Homo sapiens: one gene and its partners. The protein of the gene in region 1 interacts with the protein of each later gene in a pairwise test. Each region holds a gene or a part of one and is shown in the gene's direction. Other genes may lie near its edges.

Region 1 (5,114 bases):
GGCAAGGGCCTGATTTATTCAGGACCTAAGAGCAATGGGAAACCTTTGAAGATTCTAAATTGAGAGGCTACTGGAGATCATATTTGTGTTTGAAGAGAATCTTTATTTAATGTCTGTCTTTCTGGCTAAACTGTAAGCTCCACGAGTAGAGGCACCAACTTTTGATCTCACCGAGTACAATACAAGTAGGTACTCAATAAATGTTGTGTCACCATTTAATAGCTTAGTGCCTGGCAGACAGTAAGTGCTTAGTAACGTTATGATTTTCATTGCTCTAGACTGGCCTTTAGTGTAAGACAGTGGCTGCTAAGGATTTAGAGGTTTCATGAAATAATTAATTCCAAGAATATCTGTTGAAGACCTGTGATATACTCAGAAATGGCAGCTAAATTTATTTATTAGAATGTCATCACTTCTTTTCTTTTGTGCCCCATCTAGGATGTACAGAGCACAAAAGTGATTGAAAATTGTTACTAAATCAGACCAACCTACAGTGAGGTGCTACAGCAGATGCACCTGCCCTACAGTATTCAGTTTACGTGATCACTTTGGTGCTTGTAAAGATAGCTTTTATAAAACTATTTCTTCTAGAGTTCTCAGTATAATTACCTTTCCAAAGTTCATTTGAAATAGTCTCAATTCTTCTTCAGTCATATTCGTTTATTTTATATAAATTAGAATACCTTGCCATGTTTCTTCCCAAAGACTAATGATTGCCATTCAAAATATTTCTTCTGGCCAGGCTTGGTGGCTCATGCCTGTAATCCCAGCATTTTGGGAGGCCAAGGCGGGCAGATCACTTGAGGTCAGGAGTTCGAGACCAGCCTGGCCAACATGGTGAAACCCCCCTCTCTACTAAAAATACAAAAATTAGCCGGGCATGGTGGTGCATGCCTGTAGTCCCAGCTACTCGGGAGGTTGAGGCAGGAGAATTTCTTGAACCCAGGAGGTGGGGTGCGCAGTGAGCCGAGAGCATGGCCGCTGCACTCCAGCCTGAGTGGCAGAGCAAGACTCTGTCTCAAACAAAAGAAAAAAAGTAACTAATTTTAACGTCTCCAAAACTTGGTTTGGTAAAATTGTGTATAGGGGTGTAAGTTGTAGTTTTTGGGAAAAAAATTTATTTTATCAAATAAAGCTAATTTTTTTTCTTAGTTTTTAATGTGCCCAGCTTTGGATGCCTAGAAACACAGACACACAGACACACACACACACACACACACACACACACACACACACACTCTTAATTTTTCATGATGGGAATTGTTTAACATTTACAAAAGTAACGCGGTGAAACCCCATGCATGTCTTATTCACCTTCAACAGTAGTCAATTCATTGTTTTATCTACGCCAGATTATTTTGAAGCAAATCTCAACATTATCTTTTTAATCTGTAAACTCTTCAGTATCTACTCTAGAAAATACTTTTTTAAACTCTAAATAACATAAGCATAGTATCATCACATCTTTTTTTTTTTTTTTTTGAAGCGGAGTCTCGCTCTGTTGCCCATGCTGGAGTGCAGTGGCACGATCTTGGCTCACCGCAAGCTCTGCCTCCCGGGTTCACGCCATTCTCCTGCCTCAGCCTCCCGAGTAGCTGGGACTACAGGTGCCCGCCACCATGCCCAGCTAATTTTTTGTATTTTTAGTAGAGACGGGGTTTCACCGTGTTTGGTTTAGCCAGGATGGTCTCAATCTCCTGACCTTGTGATCTGTCCGCCTCGGCCTCCCAAAGTGCTGGGATTACAGGCGTGAGCCACCACGCCCGGCCTATCACATCTTAATTAAAATAATTAACAACATTATCCACCACTAATCAGCATGTAGACTTTCCTGATTGTTTCATAAATGGTTTTTAAAGTTGGTTTATTTGAATCAGAATCAAAATAAGTCTATACAGCATAATTGGTCAATATGTCTCTTAAGTTACTTTTAACGTATAGTTTATCCTTTCCCTTTTTTTCTTGCATTTTATTTGTTGAGGAAATGGTCATTTTTCACTTCCTGGATTTTGCTGAATGTATCCCTGTAGTATCATGTTACGTGTCCAGGAAAATATATGTATGTTTTACAGAAATGAGGTCTTGCTATGTTGCCCAGGCTGGTAAAATACTGACTTTAGAAGATATATTCCACTTAATTGCCAACATGAAGCCTATGCTTTTCAAAATCGGTTCCATAAAATCATGTTGAAGATCAGTTATTTTCTTTTCTTAGCACTTTCATGTATGTTCTGTTTTAGTTTGTTTTGCTGTCAATTCCCCAAAACATTGCCCTGAGCTCAAGTGATTCTCCCACCTTGGCCTTCCAAAGTGCTGGGATTACAGGCATGAGCCATAGTGTCTGGCCCAAGTATATTTTCTGTTTATCTTTAAATATGTGATACCTCATCTCCTTTTACTGTAAACAAATTTTTGTTTATATGGAAAAATTAGTTGTTGAAGAGGGAAAGATTTCAAAAATTATGTAAACTTGAAAGGGAGGATCTAAAGGAACGGCCGTGAGCCTCAAGAAATAGAATAATTTTGTAATGGTCCGTGTTTATTGCTCTGTGATTATTTTGATAACATGTAATTTGTTGCCATCTTAAAGTATTATAAAACATTGAAATATAAAATTGTAGCAAGAGTAGATATACCAGTTTGATTTTGGTTAAAGTAACATACTTTGTTAACTTTTTTTAATTAACAAAAAAGATACCAGGTGATCAGCACTCCAACAGATTTTTTTATGGTAATGGAATATGTGTCTGGAGGTGAATTATTTGACTACATCTGTAAGCATGGACGGGTGAGTAACATACTATCTGGTACACTAAATCTCTAAACTAATAAAAAGGAAAGTATTGGGACATAGAACAATGCAAAGATATCTTCAAGGTTGAAGTTGCTTTTATGGTAGTGCTCAACTAAACATGTAGAGTGTTAGATAAATTTTCTTTCTTAAAAAGCATTCCTTTTGAAATACTGATTTTAGAAAATATGTTTCACTTAATTGCCAACATGATGCGTATGCTTTTTAAAATCTGTTCCATAAAATCATGTTGAAGATCAGTTATTTCCTTTTCTTAGCACTTTCACATATGTTCTGTTTTAGTTTGTTTTACTGTCAATTCCCCAAAACATTGTGCACATTTAATAATATTAATTGAAATTTAAATATTTCTGCTTAGCGACAAAGACAAACTTGTCTTTTGACATGTTGAGCTTTGACAAGCTTTTGGTTGGTTTATTTTGTCTGATTTGTTGAGAATTCCAACATAATTCTAGCTTGCTTAATTATATTTAGCCTAATTATGAAATTAAAACTCTTGTCAAATAGATGTCTCAGATTTTTTTTTTTTTTTTTTTTTTGAGACAGACTCTTGCTCTGTTGCCCAGGCTGGAGCGCAGTGGCATGATCTCAGCTCACTGCAACCTCTGCCTCCTGGTACAAGCAATTCTCGTGTCCCACTCTCCTGAGTAGCTGGAACTACAGGTGCATGTCACCATGCCCGGCTAATTTTTGTATTTTTAGTAGAGATGGAGTTTCACCTTATTGGTCAGGCTGGTCTCAAACTCCTGACCTCAGGTAATCCACCTGCCTTGGCTGGGATTACAGGCATGAGCCACTGTGCCCAGCCCCAGATATTCTTAATGCAGTTTCTTTTGTGCTTGATAGGTTGAAGAGATGGAAGCCAGGCGGCTCTTTCAGCAGATTCTGTCTGCTGTGGATTACTGTCATAGGCATATGGTTGTTCATCGAGACCTGAAACCAGAGAATGTCCTGTTGGATGCACACATGAATGCCAAGATAGCCGATTTCGGTATGTAACTCCAGGGTTGTTCAGAAAGGTACTAGCTACCTTTTAAAGCATAACAACTCATTGAACTAAGAACTTTACTTTTCAACCTTGTACGTTCTGTACCATGAAAAGGAATTAGCTGAAATCTCCTCAGTAGCTTTTTTTTTTCATTTAATTAAATTTTCATTAATTTTCATTAAATACACTTTAAAAATGCAGATACCTCTAGAGAAGTTAGAAGGTTGTCATCAAGATAAATCCATTCAATCTGCATTTTCTCCTAAGGAAATGATGCATAACTGTTTTTTTGTTTTTTTTTTTTTTGAAGAGAGGGGAGGAGTCCCAGACTTCTTTGAAAATCTCATGAAAGTATGGGCACTTTCCCTGATGAATGCATATAAACCAAGGTACCTGAAAATATGCATGCAGTTGGAAAAAAGCCCTTCTGAACTGATCCACAAAGAGGTCCTTAGGTGTAACGTCTAATAACTTGATTAGAGAACAGTTTTTGTCAGGGGTAAAAGGTACATAAAATGTGATTTTTATACTCCAAACACTTTCTGGGATAAACATACGTGGAAAGGATGCCTTAATAGGGTATTTGAGAAAAAGACTAGGAAGTGAGAGATTAAAGAGAAAGAGATAGAAAGGTACAGGCTATTGTTGCCTATTTGTGGTCTATACCTTGTCTTTAATCTAAAAACCTAGAAACTACTTTCTCTATTTCTCTTCCTTCTCTAAATCATGAAACTTATTTATTACTATAGCTCAGCTAGATTTTTGGTTCAATAGATTATTTTTTCCATGTTGAATTAAATATTTCTAAATTAAAAACTTTTGGAACATAATCTCTTTATGAGGTGGGGCCCATCTGGTTTCTAATTACAGAATTTAAAGAGGCTTTTGAAAGCACAGGGCAAAAAAGTAGTAGTCTCTATTTTATTCTTTCAACTATGGAAATAGGTAAATAATATTTTGATGTTTTCATGTTTGGGAAAGTTAATATGCTTCAGAATAACCTCATTTGTGATGGGAATCAACATTTTTATTTAGAAAGGAAATTTAGTTTCACTCATATATGTGATGTGCTTTAGCTTTTTGTTACAGTGTAAGCACTCTGAGACGGTCTCTTTCCAGTTAAATGCTTTCCACTGCTTTTTTTTAATAACTTAAAAAAAAATGATATATGGAGGATCCAGGACTTGAAATTTTGCTCATATTTATATGACTTTATCTACTTTTAAAAATATCTAGCACCAAGTAAACATTACTTTTATTTTTAGGATTATCTAATATGATGTCAGATGGTGAATTTCTGAGAACTAGTTGCGG
Region 2 (3,500 bases), on another chromosome or scaffold:
CTAGGGATCATGCAGGGCATGGGGAGACTCCAGCCAAGAGCTGGAAAATTTGGGTCCTTGTTCCGGTCCTGGCATAAAATCCTCTAGAGAGTGCTAAAAATCTACAAATTGGGGACCTGGGGAATCAGAATCTTAGGGTTAGGGCTTAAGACAATTTTTGTTTTGTTTTGTTTTGTTTTGTTTTAAAGCATCATGGGTGAAAACCATTATTTTAGAGATTACATTTATATGGCTAGCTCATGAGTCTGTTTATTTCCTTCTGAGGTTCAAGCCAACACTTTCACTAATAATAGAGAGTAGAGATCTTTTTTTTTTTTTTTTTAGACGGGGTCTCGCTCTATCACCCAGGCTGGAGTGATACTTACTGCAACCTCTACTTCCCAGGCTCAAGCCATCCTCCTGCCTCAGCTTCTCAAGTAGTTGGGACTACAGGCGCACACTACCATGCCTGGCTAATTTTTGTATTTGTAGATACGGGGCTTTGCCATGTTGCCGAGGTTGGTCTTGAACTCCTGAGCTCAAGCAATCCACCCACCTCAGCCTCCCAAAGTGTTGAGATTACAGGCATCAGCCACCATGCCTGGCCTGAGATCTTTTTAAAATTATTTTTTATTTCTAAAGCAAAGAAACTTGACAGCAGAGTTGTATTGACTGAGTTGCACATTGAGCCTAGCCCTAGCCCTTTTAAGGGGCACTATTTGGAACGGCCTGGGCTCCCCAGATCTAAACTTCTCGCTCTTCACCATCCAGTTTTCAAGCCGGTGTGAAGCCCCTGATGCTAACCAGCAGTTACAGCAGGCCATGGAGGAGCGGGCACAGCTGGAAGCACACCTGGGGCAGGTGAGGCTTTGCAGGGGAGGGATGTAGAAGGAAGATGACCCCAGGTGGCCAGGAGTAGGTGACAACCAGTGACAGTCCTTCCTCATTTCTGTGGCCATTCTTGCAGGTAATGGAGTCGGTTAGACAACTACAAATGGAGAGAGATAAATATGCGGAGAATCTCAAAGGAGAGAGCGCCATGTGGCGGCAGAGGATGCAGCAGATGTCAGAGCAGGTGAGACCTGACCCTTCAGCTCCCCCTCAACCTTAGATAGGTCACTTGATCTTTCTGGGCATCTGCGAAATGGGAGGAGCACAGCCAGAGGTGGTCATGGGTCTGGGCTTTGTGGCGGTGGGGGCAGAGGGAGATGGTAGCCTGTCCAGCCACCAGCCCCTCTCCAGGGCCCTTTCTTGCTGTGCTTTGGGCAGGTGCACACATTGAGAGAGGAGAAGGAATGTAGCATGAGTCGGGTACAGGAGCTGGAGACGAGCTTGGCTGAACTGAGGAACCAGATGGGTAAGCTGGGGCTGGGGTGACCTGGGAGCAGGAATGGTGTCAGAGGGTTGTGGGGGTGGTTTAGAATGCCCCAGGGAGTTGGGTGGATGGAATGGCTTTGAGGCAGAGGGAAAGAGGTCTGTGCCAGGAGATGGCAAGTCTCGTCATCTCCATGAGCCTCAGTGCCCCATCAGCAAAGACGAAGGAGTGCCCGTTGTCAGCCACCCACAGTTGTCGCTATCGGAAAGTGGTTTGGAAGATTGGCTAACATCCGGGTGCGAGGAATCATCAGCAGGGAGGCCAAGTTTGGGGAGCTTGAGAGGAGGTATGGACCAAGAGGAGGGTTTTTTTGAGAATCCAGAGGCTTTTATTGTCTGCGTCCTTTCTCAGCTGAACCCCCGCCCCCAGAGCCCCCAGCAGGGCCCTCCGAGGTGGAGCAGCAGCTACAAGCGGAGGCTGAGCACCTGCGGAAGGAGCTGGAGGGTCTGGCAGGACAGCTTCAAGCCCAGGTGCAAGACAATGAGGGCTTGAGTCGCCTGAACCGGGAGCAGGAGGAGAGGCTGCTGGAGCTGGAGCGGGCGGCCGAGCTCTGGGGGGAGCAGGCGGAGGCGCGCAGGCAAATCCTGGAGACCATGCAGAACGACCGCACTACCATCAGCCGCGCACTCTCCCAGAACCGGGAGCTCAAGGAGCAGCTGGCTGAGCTGCAGAGCGGATTTGTAAAGCTGGTGCGCTGCCCCACCTGGAGAGCCCGCCCTCCTCCCTAGCCCTCCAGACCTTTGTTTTCCCACCTGTAAAGTGGGGCAGTGTAGCCCTCACTTGAAATGGTACTTCTGGAGGCATCTGTGAGCCAGAGCCCTGCTCCGATGGCTGTGGGGGAGAGGGGATGATTTTTCTAACCTGCCTCCACCCTTCCCGGTGCCATGGGAGGCAGACACCAAGGCAGCAAGTTCTGGGGTCTCCAGCTGCAGTGGGTGGCCGCTGATTGCTTCTCTCTGTCCAGACTAATGAGAACATGGAGATCACCAGCGCACTGCAGTCGGAGCAGCACGTCAAGAGGGAGCTGGGAAAGAAGCTGGGCGAGCTGCAGGAGAAGCTGAGCGAGCTGAAGGAAACGGTAACCCCGCCCCATCCAAGAAGGGCTGGGAGGCGGGCACCAGCCTCTGGGGAGGGGTGGTGTGAGGCCAGAGGCAGCTCCAGCCTGGGGCACAGGTGACCCCAGCACCCTCCAGGGCAGTCCTGTGACTGTTTCTTGCTCCCTGCCCTCTGACTTTTAGAGGTGGATAGCTTTGGGCTCCTCTCAGGTCTGGACATCATCGTCCCAGCTAGAGGCATGGATTTCTCCCAATCACAGGGGAAGAGACAGCGGCATAAGAGGCTCCTTAGATTCAAACTGGATTCTGGCCTTTGCTCCACTGGTCATCATTCAACTACTTTGCATCTCTAAGCCCCAGTTTCTTTAACTTAAAAAGGAAGTTAGCATCTTCCTTGCAGAGGTGCTGAGGATTCAATGAGATAATACGTGGAAAGCATTAGGCATGTAGCACACTTAGCAGATGGTGGTTGGCTCCCTCTGCGTTTCCACCAGTCTGTGGCCTACGGTTTAAATGGTGGGAAGAAGGATGTGAAATTTGAGGCTGGGGAAGGAGGCACGAGGCTCTAGACAAGGGAGGCAGTCACTTAGGCCTGGAGCAAGGGGCCAGAGGTCTGGGCAGGTGACAGAGCCCTCGCTACCCTATTTATGGGCCCTGAATCTGGAAGCAGGCCACCACCTGCCCTCACGCCCAGGGTCTTCCTACAGGTGGAGCTGAAGAGCCAAGAGGCTCAAAGTCTGCAGCAGCAGCGAGACCAGTACCTGGGACACCTGCAGCAGTATGTGGCCGCCTATCAGCAGCTGACCTCTGAGAAGGAGGTGCTGCATAATCAGCTACTGCTGCAGACCCAGCTCGTGGACCAGCTGCAGCAGCAGGAAGCTCAGGGCAAAGCGGTGGCCGAGATGGCCCGCCAAGAGTTGCAGGAAACCCAGGTGAGGGAGTTGGTGAGGGCAGGGCCCCGAGGGGGACAACCTGGCAACCTCCATGCCTTCTCACTCTCTTTTCTGGCCCCTTAGGAGCGCCTGGAAGCTGCCACCCAGCAGAATCAGCAGCTACGGGCCCAGTTGAGCCTCATGGCTCACCCTGGGGAA
Region 3 (3,500 bases), on another chromosome or scaffold:
GTTTGGAATATAATAGACATTCAGTATATTTTTGTTGAGTGAATACATTCATGCCTTTACACTCTGAGAAAGACTCACTCAGACAGAGCATGTCACTGTGGTTTCGAGTTAAGGCATTGGAAAAGAACAAATAGTGAATAGTGGAAAGGGCAGTGAAATGGAAGGCCAGAGCTCCTGAATTCCAAATCCCTCTCCTTTGTTTTAGGCCATTAGCAAGACACCTAATGTCTGGAATAATGGCATTGTATATGCATTGCAGAAGCTAACCGAAAAAAAAGTAAGCCTTGTAATACATTGCAGTGGTCACTGTTGTTCTTAGGATGTACTTTCCTGAATTAAGTTGACTTCCTTCCAATCAAGACTTGTTTGTATGGCCACATGTCAGAGCAACCTGTATGTAATAAAGAGTTTGGAAGTAGCCTCAAGATTTTTTTTCTTTCTAGTGTATGTAACCTTATAAATAACAACCTACCAAAATGTATCCTTACTGTCCCACTTTTAACTTCAAATCCCAGCCACTAAGTTCTCTGGATGTTTTTTTTTTTCATCAGTTACCTGTTGTGTTATACTCTTACATAGTTTCAGAAGGAGACTTGCTGTCTGCGCCAGGCCTTCAGTAGGGCCAAGGTTGTAATAAACCAGTCAGCCTTTGTAGTGGGCTCCTTGGGAATGTCAGTTGACATTTTCATTAATGACTTAGAAGACTTCTATAAGGCTGTCCATTGTACTAAGGTCTGCCTTGGTTGAGCGAAGTGTTAATAGATCTGCCTTTCTTCCTGACCTTGCTTTATCAGAGGACTGTCATAGCACAAGCAAATGAGAACAGACCAATGTTTCCAGAAAACAGGAGAACATTTCTCATACCTGCCGCTTAACGGTGCTACACTTGGAGATTAACACTGGAACGTCTTTCCTTCTAGTTTACAACAGCAGGATGTCTTTTTACTGAAATTAGCACACTTTTTCCACATAATTGTTACTTGAAGAAGTTGTGTAAGATGACTCCAGTTCTTACTGATGAAGCATTTAGGCAGTCTATATTTACAGGTCTTTCATTTTTAAAGGAGAGAGGAAAATCTTAAGAAGTAGCAATTTAATTATATCAGCCTTGTTTAGAGAACTGTTTGCAGAATTTAGAGTTGTCTTAGTTTGCTAGGGCCACCATAACAATGCCAACCACAAACGGGTGGCTTAAATGGCAGAAATGCATCGTCTCACAGTTCTAGAAGCTGAGAATCTGAAGAAGGCTAGAAGTCAGGGGGTTGGCAGGGTTGCTTCCTCCCGAGGGCTGTGAGGAAAGAATCTGTCCTGGGCCTCTCTCCTTGACTTGTAGATGTGACTTGTAGATGGTGGTCTCTCTTTGGGTCTTTACGTTGCCTTCCCTCTATATGTGTCTCTTTCTCCAGATCTCTCCTTTTTATGAGGATACCAGTCATAATTGGATTAGGCACCCACCCTACTCCAGTGTGACCTCATCTTAACCAGTTACCTCTGCACTGACCCTATTTCCAAATAAAAGTCACATTCTGAGGTACTGGGAGTCAGGACATCAATATACGAATTTTTGTGACAGGGACACCATTCAACCCATAACGGAGTGCGTTGCTGTCAAGGTTTCTGATGTTCTAAGGCAGAGAACAAAAGTGTGTTTTACTTTTTGTACAAGGTGGGAAAACTGAAAGGGAAACTTTTTTTTTTTAAGGTGATAGAAGAGCTGAAAGTCATAATGAAAGACTGTTTCTTTGCTCTGCCCAGTAAGCCAGACATCATTTTCATAGTATTTTATCTTTTAACCTAAAAGATGTGTTGTACCTTTGAACTTCTAGAGAATAGTAGCCTATTTTTCAGAAGCATAGACTTTTGTCTTAGAAGATGTCCAGAGAGAGGAAGGGTCTTTCTCATAGTTACCCTACCTGCGTATTAGAAGAACCACCTTAAAGTCAGTGACTCGTAACACCAGCCTCACATTCACTGTTTGATTGCCCCGTTAGTAAATGCTTTTCTTCTGTGTGTAAAGACTTAACTGTGGCCACACTAGAGATAAGTGTTATCTTTCTGATTTTCTTTTCTTCATGGTGGAAGGCTAATTCTGGAAAAAAAAAAAATGTTGCATGTAGCTGATATGTTTGCCTGAGTTATTTTATGTCCACAAACATTCATGTACCTGTTATCTCTTCTAATTTTAAAACCTGCCATGATAAAAACTAGACTTTGGGCATCCTGGATTTTTCCATATTCTTCTTAACTCTACAACTAATTCAGAGTAATCACAGGAAGATATGGGCACCTTCTGTTTTCCTTTGGCTGGTTTTTCAGGTGAATTAGTTTACTTTGTTCCCAGTCCACTTTGGGATGTGTCATTGTGGATAAGAAAGGTCCATATATCAAGAAATGTCATTGCACACGTGAACTTCTCTGTGCTTTTTTAGCATTGCTATGTAGAAGACAGCTGGTAATTTAACCTTGAATATTTTCTACAACACTGCATCTTGTTAATCCACATTCTGTTGTTTTTTTCCCCCATTTTAGCAAATTGATGGAGAAGCATTTCTACTTATGACTCAAACAGACATTGTTAAAATTATGAGCATTAAACTGGGCCCTGCTCTCAAAATTTTCAATTCCATCCTGATGTTCAAAGCTGCAGAGAAGAATTCTCACAATGAACTTTGAAGATGGTGAATTCTGAATACCATCAGCATTCTGCTTTAAAGCTCATGTTTTATTCAAAGCACAAGGACGGTTATAACTCCTAAGTGAGAAGTCTCCAAAACTCAAAAGAGCAACACTATCGGATTATTTATATTACTCAAGAGACAATATATATGAATTCTTATGAAAGTGCTTGAGCTTTTAACCAGGTACTGTCTAACAACAGTCATCTTTTGGTTCTGTTCACTGAGCTAAATTTATCTTTGTAAATCTTTTTGAGTCTGGGGGGTGGGGGGAAGGGGGGCTTCATTAATTATTTATGGTAATGGGGGGCAGAGTAAGAACTTTTGGCATTTTGTAAACATTGTTGAATTCTCTTTCATGTACACTGTTTCTTTTTCAATACTTTCAGAAACCTTTTTATATAATCAAATTTCAATTTAAACCAAATTAGTCGAAACCTGGCTAAGTTTAGCCAGTAGGACTGTTATCTGTATTGTTAATTTTGTGCCATATTTTGAATTGCAACATTATGCTAAGTATAACTTTGCAAGTCATGATATTGCCTAACTGCTTGTCATAATTGTCAGGGCTGAATAGTTGTAAGAATGACTTTTCTTTGAATCAGTATTTTTCCTTTTGCACGCATTATGAAATGTTAAACAAATTACTTTTCACCAGCATCTTTACTATAATTACCAAAAACATGTATATAAAAGAATGAAATTGAAAAATAAAATATATAAACATAAATAAATTAGGTAGTGTATTTTGAGTGGCATCAGTCTCACTCATCTTGGTGCCCCGGTGTTTACAAGAGCCAGATGGTGTCAGAGGAGTACGCAGTT
Region 4 (3,500 bases), on another chromosome or scaffold:
CTAGCCCTTTTAAGGGGCACTGCCTGAGCTCCCCAGATCAAAACTTCTCACTCTTCACCATCCAGTCCTCGAGCTGCAGAGAAGCGGTCCTCCAGCGGTGGTTACAGCAGACCATAAAGGAGCGGGCGCTGCTGAACGCACACGTGACACAGGTGAGGCTTTGCAGAGGGAGGGATGTGGAAGGAAGATGACCCCAGGTGGCCAGGAGCAGGTGAGGACCAGTGACAGCCCTTCCTAACTTCTGTGCCCATTTCTTGCAGGTGACAGAGTCACTAAAACAAGTCCAGCTAGAGCGAGACGAATATGCTAAACACATAAAAGGAGAGAGGGCCCGGTGGCAGGAGAGGATGTGGAAAATGTCGGTGGAGGTGAGGTCTGACCCTTCAGCCCCCACTTTAGATAGGTCACTGGATCTTTCTGGGCATCTGTAAAATGGGAATAGTACAGCCAGAGGTGGTCATGGGTCTGGGCTTTGTGGAGATGGGGACAGAGAATGAGATGGTAGCCTGTCCAGCCACCAGCCCCTCTCTCCAGGGCCCTTTCCCCTGTGCTTTGGGCAGGCTCGAACATTGAAGGAAGAGAAGAAGCGTGACATACATCGGATACAGGAGCTGGAGAGGAGCTTGTCCGAACTCAAAAACCAGATGGGTAAGATGGGGCTGGTGTGACCTCGGAGCAGGACTGGCATCAGAGGTCTGTGGGGGTGGCTTAGAATGCCCCAGGGAGGTGGGTGGGTGGAAGGGCTTTGAGGCAGAGGGAAAGAGGTCTGTGCCAGGAGACGGCAAGTTTTGTCATCTCCATGAGCCTCAGGGTCCCCATCAGCAAAGAGGGAGGAGTGCCCGTTGTCAGCCACCCACAGTGCTCTCTATGTGAAAGTGGCTTGGAAATTGGCTACCATTGGGTGCGAGGAATGATTAGCAGTGAGGCCAAGTTTGGGAAGCCTGAGAGGAGCTGTGCATCAAGAGGAGGTTTTTTTTTTTTTTTTGAGGGGGATGTGGGTAGAGGGGTTGGGGAATCCAGAGGCCCTTATTGTCTGCTTCATTTCTCAGCTGAGCCCCCATCCCTGGCGCCCCCAGCAGTGACCTCTGTGGTGGAACAGCTACAAGATGAGGCCAAACACCTGAGGCAGGAGGTGGAAGGTCTGGAGGGAAAGCTCCAGTCCCAGGTGGAAAACAATCAGGCCTTGAGTCTCCTTAGCAAGGAACAAAAGCAGAGACTCCAGGAGCAGGAGGAGATGCTCCGAGAGCAGGAGGCGCAGAGAGTGCGGGAGCAGGAGAGACTGTGTGAACAAAACGAGAGGCTTCGGGAGCAGCAGAAGACGCTACAGGAGCAGGGTGAGAGGCTGCGAAAGCAGGAGCAGAGGCTACGCAAACAGGAGGAGAGGCTGCGAAAGGAGGAGGAGAGGCTGCAAAAGCAGGAAAAGAGGCTGTGGGACCAGGAGGAGAGGCTGTGGAAGAAGGAGGAGAGGCTACAAAAGCAGGAGGAGAGGCTCGCGCTCTCCCAGAACCACAAGCTCGACAAGCAGCTGGCCGAGCCACAGTGCAGCTTCGAGGATCTGGTGGGTTGCCCCACCTGGGGAGCCTGCCCTCATCCCTATCCCTCCAGGCCTTTGTTTCCCCACCTGTAAAATGGGCCAGTGTAGCCCTCACATGAAATGCTACTTCTAAAGGCACCTGTGAGCTACAGCTCATCGGGCTCTGCTCTGATGGCTGTGGGGGAGAAGGGATGATTTTTCTAACCTGCCTCCACCCTTCCTGGTGATATGGGAGGCAGACACCAAGGTCTGGTGTCTCCAGCTGCAGTGGATGGCCACTGATTGCTTCTCTCTGTCCAGAACAACGAGAAAAAGAGCGCACTGCAGTTGGAGCAGCAAGTAAAGGAGCTGCAGGAGAAGCTAGACGAGGTGAAGGAGATGGTAACCTCCACCCCATCCAAGAAGGGCTGGGAGGCGGGCACCAGCCTCTGGGGAGGGGAGGTGCCAGGCCAAAGGCAGCTCCAGCTGGGAGGCAGGTGACCCCAGCACCCTCCAGTGCAGCTCTATGACTGTTTCTTGCTTCCTGCCCTCTGACTTTTAGAGGTGGGTAGCCCTGGGCTCCTCCCAGGTCTGGACATCATCATCCCAGCTAGAGACATGGAGCCCCCAATCACAGGGGAAGAGACAGTGGTACAAGAGGCTCCTTATCCAGGCACGGTGGCTCGCACCTGTAATCCCAGCACTTTGGGAGGCTGAGGCAGGAGAATCACTTGAGGTCAGGAGTTTGAGACCAGCCTGGCCAACGTGGCGAAACCTCACCCCTACTAAAATTACAACAACAACAACAAAAAATTAGCCAGGCATGGTGGCGCATGCCTGTAATCCCAGCTACTCAGGAGGCTGAGGCACGAGAATCGCTTGAGCCCACGTGGTGGAGGCTGCAGTGAGCTGAGATTGCACCACTGCACTCCAGCCTGGGCCACAGAGTGACACTGTCTCAAAACAAAACAAAAAAGCCTCCTTAGATTCAAACTGGATTCTGGCCTGGGTTCCACTGGTCACCATTCAACTACTGTTCATCTCTAAGTCTCTGTTTCTGTGACTTCAAAAGGAAGTTAGCATTTTCCTTGCAGAGGTGCTGAGGATTGAATGAGAGAATACCTGGAAAGCATTAGGCATGTAGCACACTTAGCAGATGGTGGTTGGCTCCCTCTGCTTTTCCACCAGTCTGTGGCCTACAGTTTAAATGGTGGGAAGAAGGACATGAGATTTGAGGCTGGGGAAGGAGGTATGGGGTTCTAGGCAAGGGAGGAAGCCTCTTAGGCCTGGAGCAAGGGACCAGGGTCCTGGGCAGGTGACAGAGCCCCACGGTGCCCTCGCTACCCTATTAATGGGCCCAGAATCTGGAAGCCAGCCGCCATGTGCCCTCATGCCCAGGGTCTTCCTGCAGGTGGAGCTGAAGAGCCAAGAGTCTCAGAGTCTGCAGCAGCAGCGAGACTAGTACCTGGGTCACCTGCAGCAGTACATGGCCACCTATCAGCAGCTGACCTCTGAGAAGGAGGCGCTGCACAGGCAGTTACTGCTGCAGACCCAGTTCGTGGACCAGCTGCAGCAGCAGGAAGCTTGGGGCAAAGCGGTGGCTGAGATGGCCGGACAAAAGTTGCAGGAGACCCAGGGGAGGGAGTTGCTGAGGACGGGGCCCCGAGGGGGATGACCTGGCAACCTCCGTGCCTTCTCACTCTGTTTCCCGTCCCCTTAGGAGCACCTAGAAGCTGCCAGCCACCAGAACCAACAGCTAGAGACCCAGCTAAGCCTCGTGGCTCTCCCTGGAGAAGGTACAGGAGACCACTCAGAGGAAGAGGAGAGAGCCCCAGGAGGAAGGGGGGACTGTTAGCAGCATAGGATTGAGGGGTTGGAAGAGACCTTTAGAACAGCTGGTCGTTATGCCAACCGGGTGTCCGCACTAAGTTCAGCATCAATATGGTGACCTCCTGGGAGCAGGGGGCCACCAGGTTGCCTAAGGATG

What was found. Proteins that work in one complex are often made in the same cells at the same time.
Region 2: the proteins of PRKAA2 (region 1) and GOLGA2 interact in binary tests that used the Homo sapiens proteins (3 or more experiments, as listed by UniProt).
Region 3: the proteins of PRKAA2 (region 1) and L3MBTL3 interact in binary tests that used the Homo sapiens proteins (3 or more experiments, as listed by UniProt).
Region 4: the proteins of PRKAA2 (region 1) and GOLGA6A interact in binary tests that used the Homo sapiens proteins (3 or more experiments, as listed by UniProt).

What each region holds. Positions count from the first base shown.
Region 1 is NC_000001.11:56,688,700-56,693,813, forward strand, and holds part of PRKAA2 (5'-AMP-activated protein kinase catalytic subunit alpha-2), read left to right. Parts: intron 1-2,694; coding exon 2,695-2,788; intron 2,789-3,658; coding exon 3,659-3,803; intron 3,804-5,065; coding exon 5,066-5,114. UniProt on the Homo sapiens protein: Catalytic subunit of AMP-activated protein kinase (AMPK), an energy sensor protein kinase that plays a key role in regulating cellular energy metabolism.
Region 2 is NC_000009.12:128,259,008-128,262,507, reverse strand, and holds part of GOLGA2 (golgin subfamily A member 2), read left to right. Parts: intron 1-750; coding exon 751-840; intron 841-946; coding exon 947-1,054; intron 1,055-1,248; coding exon 1,249-1,336; intron 1,337-1,705; coding exon 1,706-2,043; intron 2,044-2,318; coding exon 2,319-2,432; intron 2,433-3,116; coding exon 3,117-3,341; intron 3,342-3,425; coding exon 3,426-3,500. UniProt on the Homo sapiens protein: Peripheral membrane component of the cis-Golgi stack that acts as a membrane skeleton that maintains the structure of the Golgi apparatus, and as a vesicle thether that facilitates vesicle fusion to the Golgi membrane.
Region 3 is NC_000006.12:130,137,081-130,140,580, forward strand, and holds part of L3MBTL3 (lethal(3)malignant brain tumor-like protein 3), read left to right. Parts: intron 1-2,529; coding exon 2,530-2,673; 3' UTR 2,674-3,500. UniProt on the Homo sapiens protein: Is a negative regulator of Notch target genes expression, required for RBPJ-mediated transcriptional repression. It recruits KDM1A to Notch-responsive elements and promotes KDM1A-mediated H3K4me demethylation.
Region 4 is NC_000015.10:74,072,551-74,076,050, reverse strand, and holds part of GOLGA6A (golgin subfamily A member 6A), read left to right. Parts: intron 1-65; coding exon 66-152; intron 153-260; coding exon 261-368; intron 369-560; coding exon 561-648; intron 649-1,049; coding exon 1,050-1,558; intron 1,559-1,834; coding exon 1,835-1,903; intron 1,904-3,233; coding exon 3,234-3,309; intron 3,310-3,500.